Regions from separate parts of the Homo sapiens genome. Here region 2 is reported to be linked to region 1. Evidence: microRNA targets listed by miRTarBase, many of them from high-throughput screens and not tested one by one. Region 1 holds a microRNA gene; the other region holds the end of a gene's coding sequence.

The links. Region 1 holds the annotated microRNA hsa-miR-6742-5p (AGUGGGGUGGGACCCAGCUGUU, at 1,195-1,216, shown strand). A microRNA usually pairs through its seed, bases 2 to 8, with sites in the 3' UTR of a target mRNA and lowers its output. Matches are read on the target gene's strand: a 7mer-m8 pairs with bases 2 to 8, a 7mer-A1 pairs with bases 2 to 7 and ends in A, and an 8mer does both.
Region 2: miRTarBase lists CDH6 as a target of hsa-miR-6742-5p. Seed matches in the 3' UTR shown: 7mer-m8 at 3,234-3,240.

Annotation. Positions count from the first base shown.
Region 1 is chr1:228,394,299-228,398,298 of GRCh38, reverse strand. MIR6742 (microRNA 6742) reads left to right here and starts at 1,190; the gene lies at 1,190-1,251. TRIM11 (tripartite motif containing 11) reads left to right here. Exons shown (of 6, transcript NM_145214.3): 4 at 1,134-1,156; 5 at 1,252-1,352; 6 at 3,047-4,000. The coding sequence ends at 3,594. TRIM11-AS1 (TRIM11 antisense RNA 1) reads right to left here. Exons shown (of 3, transcript NR_199157.1): 1 at 3,851-4,000; 2 at 2,493-2,588; 3 at 1,332-1,556.
Region 2 is chr5:31,322,746-31,326,948 of GRCh38, forward strand. It overlaps CDH6 (cadherin 6), which reads left to right. Exons shown (of 12, transcript NM_004932.4): 12 at 73-4,203. The coding sequence ends at 563. Among named protein-coding and RNA genes, the nearest start is that of CDH6, 130 kb to the left of the region's middle.

The DNA.
Region 1 (4,000 bases):
GTATGTGTGGAAATCTTCCTTTGCCATTTCTCCTACATGTAGGGAAACCCTTGTCTGGGATTATGTCTTACTGACCTCTGCATCCTGGCCTGGTAGCTGGCACCACGTGTGTTAGAATGAACATGGTGTGGGATCGTCTATTTGACAGTGTGGGTTAAATCCTTGCAGTGCACTGAAGACTGCTCTAAGAGATACAAGACCGTGTCTCCTAAGAGCTGATGTTCCAATACCTGGGTGTATCACGCCAGCTCGGGCTGCCACATTTAGTACCACCTGCCAGGAGGCTTCCCCAGCAGAGACTGATTGTCTCCCAGTCCTGCACACTGGAAGACTGAGGTCAAAGCTGGTTCCCCCTGAGGCCTATCTCTTGGGCCTGTAGATGCCTTTTCTTCCCTGTATCCTCACAGGGTCTCCCCTCTGTGGGTGTCTGTGTCCTAGTCGCCCCTTCTTATGAGACTCAAGTTATTTTGGATTGCAGCCCACCCTAATGGCCTCATTTTACTATGATTTCCTCTTTAAAAGCCCTTTTTTCTAATAGTCAAGTTCTGAAGTCCTGAAGTTTCTGGCTTCAACATACGGATTTGGCGGGATGGACACAATTCGGGCCCTAACATGGAGTCAGATGCTATCACGTATCAGGCAGTGACACAGGAAGGACGCACGCCCAAGAGTGGGGCTGAGCAGGGAGCCTGCAGGGCAGGTGGAGCTGGGAGAGGAAGCAGTGCAACCACAGGGTTGGGCTCCAGCTGGGGTGGAGGTGCCCCTATGCTGAAGGCTGGGATGTGTGCCTGTCCTGTCCTTGGCACCCAGAGGCGCCCACTTGGGGCTCTGGGTGAGTGAGCCAACAGCCAGATGCCCTACATCCAAGTGTCAGGCAGAAGTGGGCCTTGGTCCGCAGGGCTGGGCTGCACCCCATTGGTGATGCCTCCTGGCACACATGTCAGAGCCTCTGTCCAGCATTCCTGTGTCTGAGCCTTGCTGCGGGTGGTTTATGGCCCCCTGTGTGTGTTTTTGCTGCCTGACGCTCAAATGTAGGAGAGGGGGACGGGGCGAGGCTCCAGGGGCGGGGAGGGGACTCCAGGAGCAAGCGATGGTCACTGACACCGAGTGTGCTGTTTCTCCTCCCCACATAGGACATCAAGGACGCCCTGCGCAGGTACGAACCCAGCCTCTCCTGGAGGGGGGGCAGGAGGGAGTGGGGTGGGACCCAGCTGTTGGCCATGGCGACAACACCTGGGTTGTCCCCTCTAGGGTCCAGGATGTGAAGCTGCAGCCCCCAGAAGTTGTGCCTATGGAGCTGAGGACCGTGTGCAGGGTCCCGGGACTGGTAGAGACACTGCGGAGGTTTCGAGGTAGGTGTGGAGGCCCCAGGTGGGGAGATGACTCCAGGAGGGGACCTGCCAAGGACCTGGGCAGCCAGCCACGTGTTCTGTGCCCTGCCACTGCCAGCTCCAAACTCACAGTGTCATGGTGGTGGGTTGTTGGGAAAACGTCCTCTGCTCATACTTCTGACATCAGTTGTGTGGGTATTTTCACACCAAACAATTCTTCAACTTCTGGAAACGAATTGGGTATCCAAGGATTCCATTCAGCATTGAACAGAATTGCCAGTGCTGACACTACAGGAGTTAGTACAGACCCCACAGATTAAGGGCTCAGTCCCATAAGACTGCCCCCACTTCAGATGCCAGTCACAACTTCCAGGGGCTGCCCATACTTCTGTTCCCTCAGCGCCTCTGCAGATGTGAGCATTCGCTAGCACAGCCCATGGAACTCAGAAGAGCACTTTACTTACTGTCATTGGTTTATTGTGAAGGATACCACTCAGGAAGAGCCAAATGGAAGAGACACATGGGCAAAGCCTGGGGAAGGGCTCAGAGCTTTCCCACCCTCCCTGGGTGCACCTTCCCAGCACCTCAGTGTGCTCACCAACCTGGAAACTCCCTGAGCCCCAAGAGCTGTTTAGGTGTCTTTGTGGAGGTTCCATTACATGGTTATGATTGATTAAATCATTGGTCATTGGTGATGGGGCTCAACCTCAGACCCCTTTCCCCTTCCTGAGGTCAGAGGCTGGGGCTGAGTGTTCCCGCCCTCTACTGACAGGATTGGTCTTTCTGGTGGCTGGCCTTATGCTGGGCTCTCAGGTCCCCACCTCAGCCACTGCAGTGGCATCAACTCAGGTGTGATGGAAAGGGGCATCTTATGATAGCACAAGATGCTTCTATCAGTCAGGAAATTCCCAGGGTTCTGTGAGCTCTGCGCCAGGAACTGGGCACAAAACCCAAATCTGAGTCTTGTATCACAGTCACCCAAAGGAAGTACTATCCTCAGCTCTTGCTAGCAGGTCAGGAGCCTGTTGTGTAGGAACTGTGTGCAGGCCTCCAGAGGTGGATAGATCTGAAATCGGAGTGGTCAGGGTTGGGACAGCTGCCCTAATTCACATCCTTCATTTGGAGATTGAAAGGAAAAACAGACTGGATGCATTGGCTCACCTCTGTAATCCCAGCACTTTGAGAGGCTCAGGCGGGAGGATTGCTTGAGGCCATCAGTTCAAGACCAACCCGGGAAACATAGCAAGACTCCCATCTCTACAAATAAAAAACAAAAAAATGAGCCAGCCATGGTGGCACACGCCTGTAATCCCAGCAGCTTGGGAGGATCTGAGGCGGGAGGATCATTTGAGCCCAGGAGATCAAGGCTGCAGTGAGCCATGATCGCACCACTGCACTGCAGCCTGGGGCCACAGAGCAAGACCCTGCCTCTTTAAAAAAAAAAAAAAAAGCAACCAAGATTCCCTCTTGATATCTGAAGGCAAAACATGGACCAATTTGTAGGACATTGTAAGTTGCAACTGGACGTAGCTAAGTGGGGAGAGGATGTCCACTTGGAGACAGTTAGTTACTCCAGGAGGTTGTGAGGCTACAGGCCCAGGGCAGAGAGCCAGGCCGTCCGACTGGGAGGATTGTACCTACATGCCCAGGACATGGGCAGATGGCCCCAGCTTGCCTGTGGCTGTGCCTGGGTGACCTTGGGCCTCTCTCTGCAGGGGACGTGACCTTGGACCCGGACACCGCCAACCCTGAGCTGATCCTGTCTGAAGACAGGCGGAGCGTGCAGCGGGGGGACCTACGGCAGGCCCTGCCGGACAGCCCAGAGCGCTTTGACCCCGGCCCCTGCGTGCTGGGCCAGGAGCGCTTCACCTCAGGCCGCCACTACTGGGAGGTGGAGGTTGGGGACCGCACCAGCTGGGCCCTGGGGGTGTGCAGGGAGAACGTGAACAGGAAGGAGAAGGGCGAGCTGTCCGCGGGCAACGGCTTCTGGATCCTGGTCTTCCTGGGGAGCTATTACAATTCCTCGGAACGGGCCTTGGCTCCACTCCGGGACCCACCCAGGCGCGTGGGGATCTTTCTGGACTACGAGGCTGGACATCTCTCTTTCTACAGTGCCACCGATGGGTCACTGCTATTCATCTTTCCCGAGATCCCCTTCTCGGGGACGCTGCGGCCCCTCTTCTCACCCCTGTCCAGCAGCCCGACCCCGATGACTATCTGCCGGCCGAAAGGTGGGTCCGGGGACACCCTGGCTCCCCAGTGACTCGGGCCCTCCTGGAGGAGTCCTGTTGCCTCTCCTGCCCCTCCAGGCCACTGAGTGTTTTGGCCACTTGGAGGACCTGGGAGGAGGGAGTGTGTCCTTTGAGCAAGAGGAGGAACTCCTGGTGCCTTTCTGAGCCTGCGTGGGAGAACCCCAATTCTAGCACTCCAGGAAACTGTGGGAGAGTGTGGGGCAGGCTCCGTCCTCCCTGGGAGACCCCTCCAGCCACCGGGTGCCACTTAATGCCAACAGCCCTTACCAAAGCTGGGAGCCCCATTGCCCCGGCAGCTCTGGCCTGTGGTTCCAGAAGCTGAGAAAACTCCACTGGGGCTTGCAGAATCCAGGGTTCACCTAAGCTGCACAGTTCCTGCAGCTTTGCCAGCCCCCTGAAAGTCTTGTGTACCCCACC
Region 2 (4,203 bases), not on the chromosome of region 1:
TGTTTCTTCCTGACATTAATTGGGCAGCAAATTAACTTTTCCTTCCCTTTCTGTTTTGTTTTCTGCTTCCAGTGACAGTGGTGCTGTTTGCAGCTCTGAGGCGGCAGCGAAAAAAAGAGCCTTTGATCATTTCCAAAGAGGACATCAGAGATAACATTGTCAGTTACAACGACGAAGGTGGTGGAGAGGAGGACACCCAGGCTTTTGATATCGGCACCCTGAGGAATCCTGAAGCCATAGAGGACAACAAATTACGAAGGGACATTGTGCCCGAAGCCCTTTTCCTACCCCGACGGACTCCAACAGCTCGCGACAACACCGATGTCAGAGATTTCATTAACCAAAGGTTAAAGGAAAATGACACGGACCCCACTGCCCCGCCATACGACTCCTTGGCCACTTACGCCTATGAAGGCACTGGCTCCGTGGCGGATTCCCTGAGCTCGCTGGAGTCAGTGACCACGGATGCAGATCAAGACTATGATTACCTTAGTGACTGGGGACCTCGATTCAAAAAGCTTGCAGATATGTATGGAGGAGTGGACAGTGACAAAGACTCCTAATCTGTTGCCTTTTTCATTTTCCAATACGACACTGAAATATGTGAAGTGGCTATTTCTTTATATTTATCCACTACTCCGTGAAGGCTTCTCTGTTCTACCCGTTCCAAAAGCCAATGGCTGCAGTCCGTGTGGATCCAATGTTAGAGACTTTTTTCTAGTACACTTTTATGAGCTTCCAAGGGGCAAATTTTTATTTTTTAGTGCATCCAGTTAACCAAGTCAGCCCAACAGGCAGGTGCCGGAGGGGAGGACAGGGAACAGTATTTCCACTTGTTCTCAGGGCAGCGTGCCCGCTTCCGCTGTCCTGGTGTTTTACTACACTCCATGTCAGGTCAGCCAACTGCCCTAACTGTACATTTCACAGGCTAATGGGATAAAGGACTGTGCTTTAAAGATAAAAATATCATCATAGTAAAAGAAATGAGGGCATATCGGCTCACAAAGAGATAAACTACATAGGGGTGTTTATTTGTGTCACAAAGAATTTAAAATAACACTTGCCCATGCTATTTGTTCTTCAAGAACTTTCTCTGCCATCAACTACTATTCAAAACCTCAAATCCACCCATATGTTAAAATTCTCATTACTCTTAAGGAATAGAAGCAAATTAAACGGTAACATCCAAAAGCAACCACAAACCTAGTACGACTTCATTCCTTCCACTAACTCATAGTTTGTTATATCCTAGACTAGACATGCGAAAGTTTGCCTTTGTACCATATAAAGGGGGAGGGAAATAGCTAATAATGTTAACCAAGGAAATATATTTTACCATACATTTAAAGTTTTGGCCACCACATGTATCACGGGTCACTTGAAATTCTTTCAGCTATCAGTAGGCTAATGTCAAAATTGTTTAAAAATTCTTGAAAGAATTTTCCTGAGACAAATTTTAACTTCTTGTCTATAGTTGTCAGTATTATTCTACTATACTGTACATGAAAGTAGCAGTGTGAAGTACAATAATTCATATTCTTCATATCCTTCTTACACGACTAAGTTGAATTAGTAAAGTTAGATTAAATAAAACTTAAATCTCACTCTAGGAGTTCAGTGGAGAGGTTAGAGCCAGCCACACTTGAACCTAATACCCTGCCCTTGACATCTGGAAACCTCTACATATTTATATAACGTGATACATTTGGATAAACAACATTGAGATTATGATGAAAACCTACATATTCCATGTTTGGAAGACCCTTGGAAGAGGAAAATTGGATTCCCTTAAACAAAAGTGTTTAAGATTGTAATTAAAATGATAGTTGATTTTCAAAAGCATTAATTTTTTTTCATTGTTTTTAACTTTGCTTTCATGACCATCCTGCCATCCTTGACTTTGAACTAATGATAAAGTAATGATCTCAAACTATGACAGAAAAGTAATGTAAAATCCATCCAATCTATTATTTCTCTAATTATGCAATTAGCCTCATAGTTATTATCCAGAGGACCCAACTGAACTGAACTAATCCTTCTGGCAGATTCAAATCGTTTATTTCACACGCTGTTCTAATGGCACTTATCATTAGAATCTTACCTTGTGCAGTCATCAGAAATTCCAGCGTACTATAATGAAAACATCCTTGTTTTGAAAACCTAAAAGACAGGCTCTGTATATATATATACTTAAGAATATGCTGACTTCACTTATTAGTCTTAGGGATTTATTTTCAATTAATATTAATTTTCTACAAATAATTTTAGTGTCATTTCCATTTGGGGATATTGTCATATCAGCACATATTTTCTGTTTGGAAACACACTGTTGTTTAGTTAAGTTTTAAATAGGTGTATTACCCAAGAAGTAAAGATGGAAACGTTAAAAGAAGAGAAATGTAGTATTTTGGGTTACCTGATTAGAGTGAAAATTTTTTACAATCATATTATTCCTTGTGTCTTCTGAATGGTTTCCGATTTTATAATGGACTGCCCTATATAGTAACAAGTATTTCATGCTTGAGCTATTTCCTGCTTTCAGGGTTTCTTTTTTCTAGTTCTTCATACACACACATACACACACACACACACACACACACACACACACACGAATGCAAACAAAAGGCTATATGAGGTCTTCACTCTAATGAATTGATATGTATCATAGTCACAGGTAAGTGTTGAAAAAAGCTTAGTAAAGTTAGAAGCTACTTACTCATAGCAATAGAACAGCACCTTAATCACACGATTTACTGTAAAATTAAAGAGGTCTCTATCTGTATGTTTCATGTCACGTAACAAATTGAATCAAGGAAGATAGTCCTGTAAAAAGAAAGGTATCATCTGAAGTTGAGGATTGACACTAGCAGTTTCCAATGTTTAAAGGTAAGATCTGAGTTCTCCTAATAAGTAAAAGTAAGTAGTTCTATAGCAGAATATCTGAGATGTAATTGGCAAGGTATTTTATCCCTCCCTGCAGATGACACAGCATACCAAGAACAGGTTAATATGATTACTTATGGAAATAACTTTAATCTCTTATCATAAAAGCTGATGATGAAGTAAATTTATAGGAAATTGGATAATTTGAGACTGGGGCTAAATATTTAGTACCAGGGTACTGTAAGTATCAAGTTGGAGTGACGTTTTCCTATAATTCAGACTCTTTGACATCGTGGAACCAATAAGAGTCATAGTTCCATCATTCTCCAGCTTCGTCTCACTTCCTTCCCACCCCACCTGAGTATCAGGTCAAACATCATTGCATGCGCAGGTTTTTTTTTTAATTGCTAGGTCCCAGGCAACATGAAAGATTATTGGAGAAAAAAATAATTTTCAGCCCAGTTTTTTCATTGTCTGTTTCCTAATTTTAGATGTTGGTGATGGGAAAGATGGAAGGAGAGTGGGAAGAAGTAAAATTTTAATATTTGTTTCAATCACTTTGAAACTAAAATTCATTAAGCATAACCAGATTGCTTTTGTGGGTTGTTTCAAGGACATTGAGAGCTTTCTGATGATATGTTTTTGCCCTCTATTCAAAAGCAAGAGTTCCTTTAAACTACTAAGATATTCCCTAGAATAAGCTGAATTTAAAAAAACATTAAGCCATTGTTTAAAGCCCCTTCACTTCCTGGCCACTTACTTCTGAAAGGCCTAAAAAACATTTGTGCCCAAATAAGTAAATAAACCAAATGGGAAAGAAGCAAAGATTATTCCATAGAACCACAAGAGAGGGAATGTGGGCACAGTAAATAGATGTTTCTTTCAGAACTTTCCTGCCTTTACAGTTTGTGTCCATAAAGGGATGTTCAGCAATGAAATTACTCCCTTTTCAGATGGAACAAAACCTGCCCATTTAATTTTAACGCAGTATAAAAAACGTGTGGTTTAGTTTTTATTTTCAGCTCCCAAAGAGTTGTGCAGAAAATCTTAAAATTTTTTTTTTTTTTTTTTTTTTTTTTTTGAGACAGAATCTCGCTCTGTCGCCCAGGCTGGAATGCAGTGGCGCGATCTCTGCTCACTACAAGCTCCGCCTCCCGGGTTCACGCCATTCTCCTGCCTCAGCGCCCCCAGTAGCTGGGACTACAGGCACACACCACCACGCCCGGCTAATTTTTGTTGTATTTTTTAGTGGAGACAGGGTTTCACCATGTTAGCCAGGATGATCTCCATCTCCTGACCTCGTGGTCCGCCCGCCTCGGC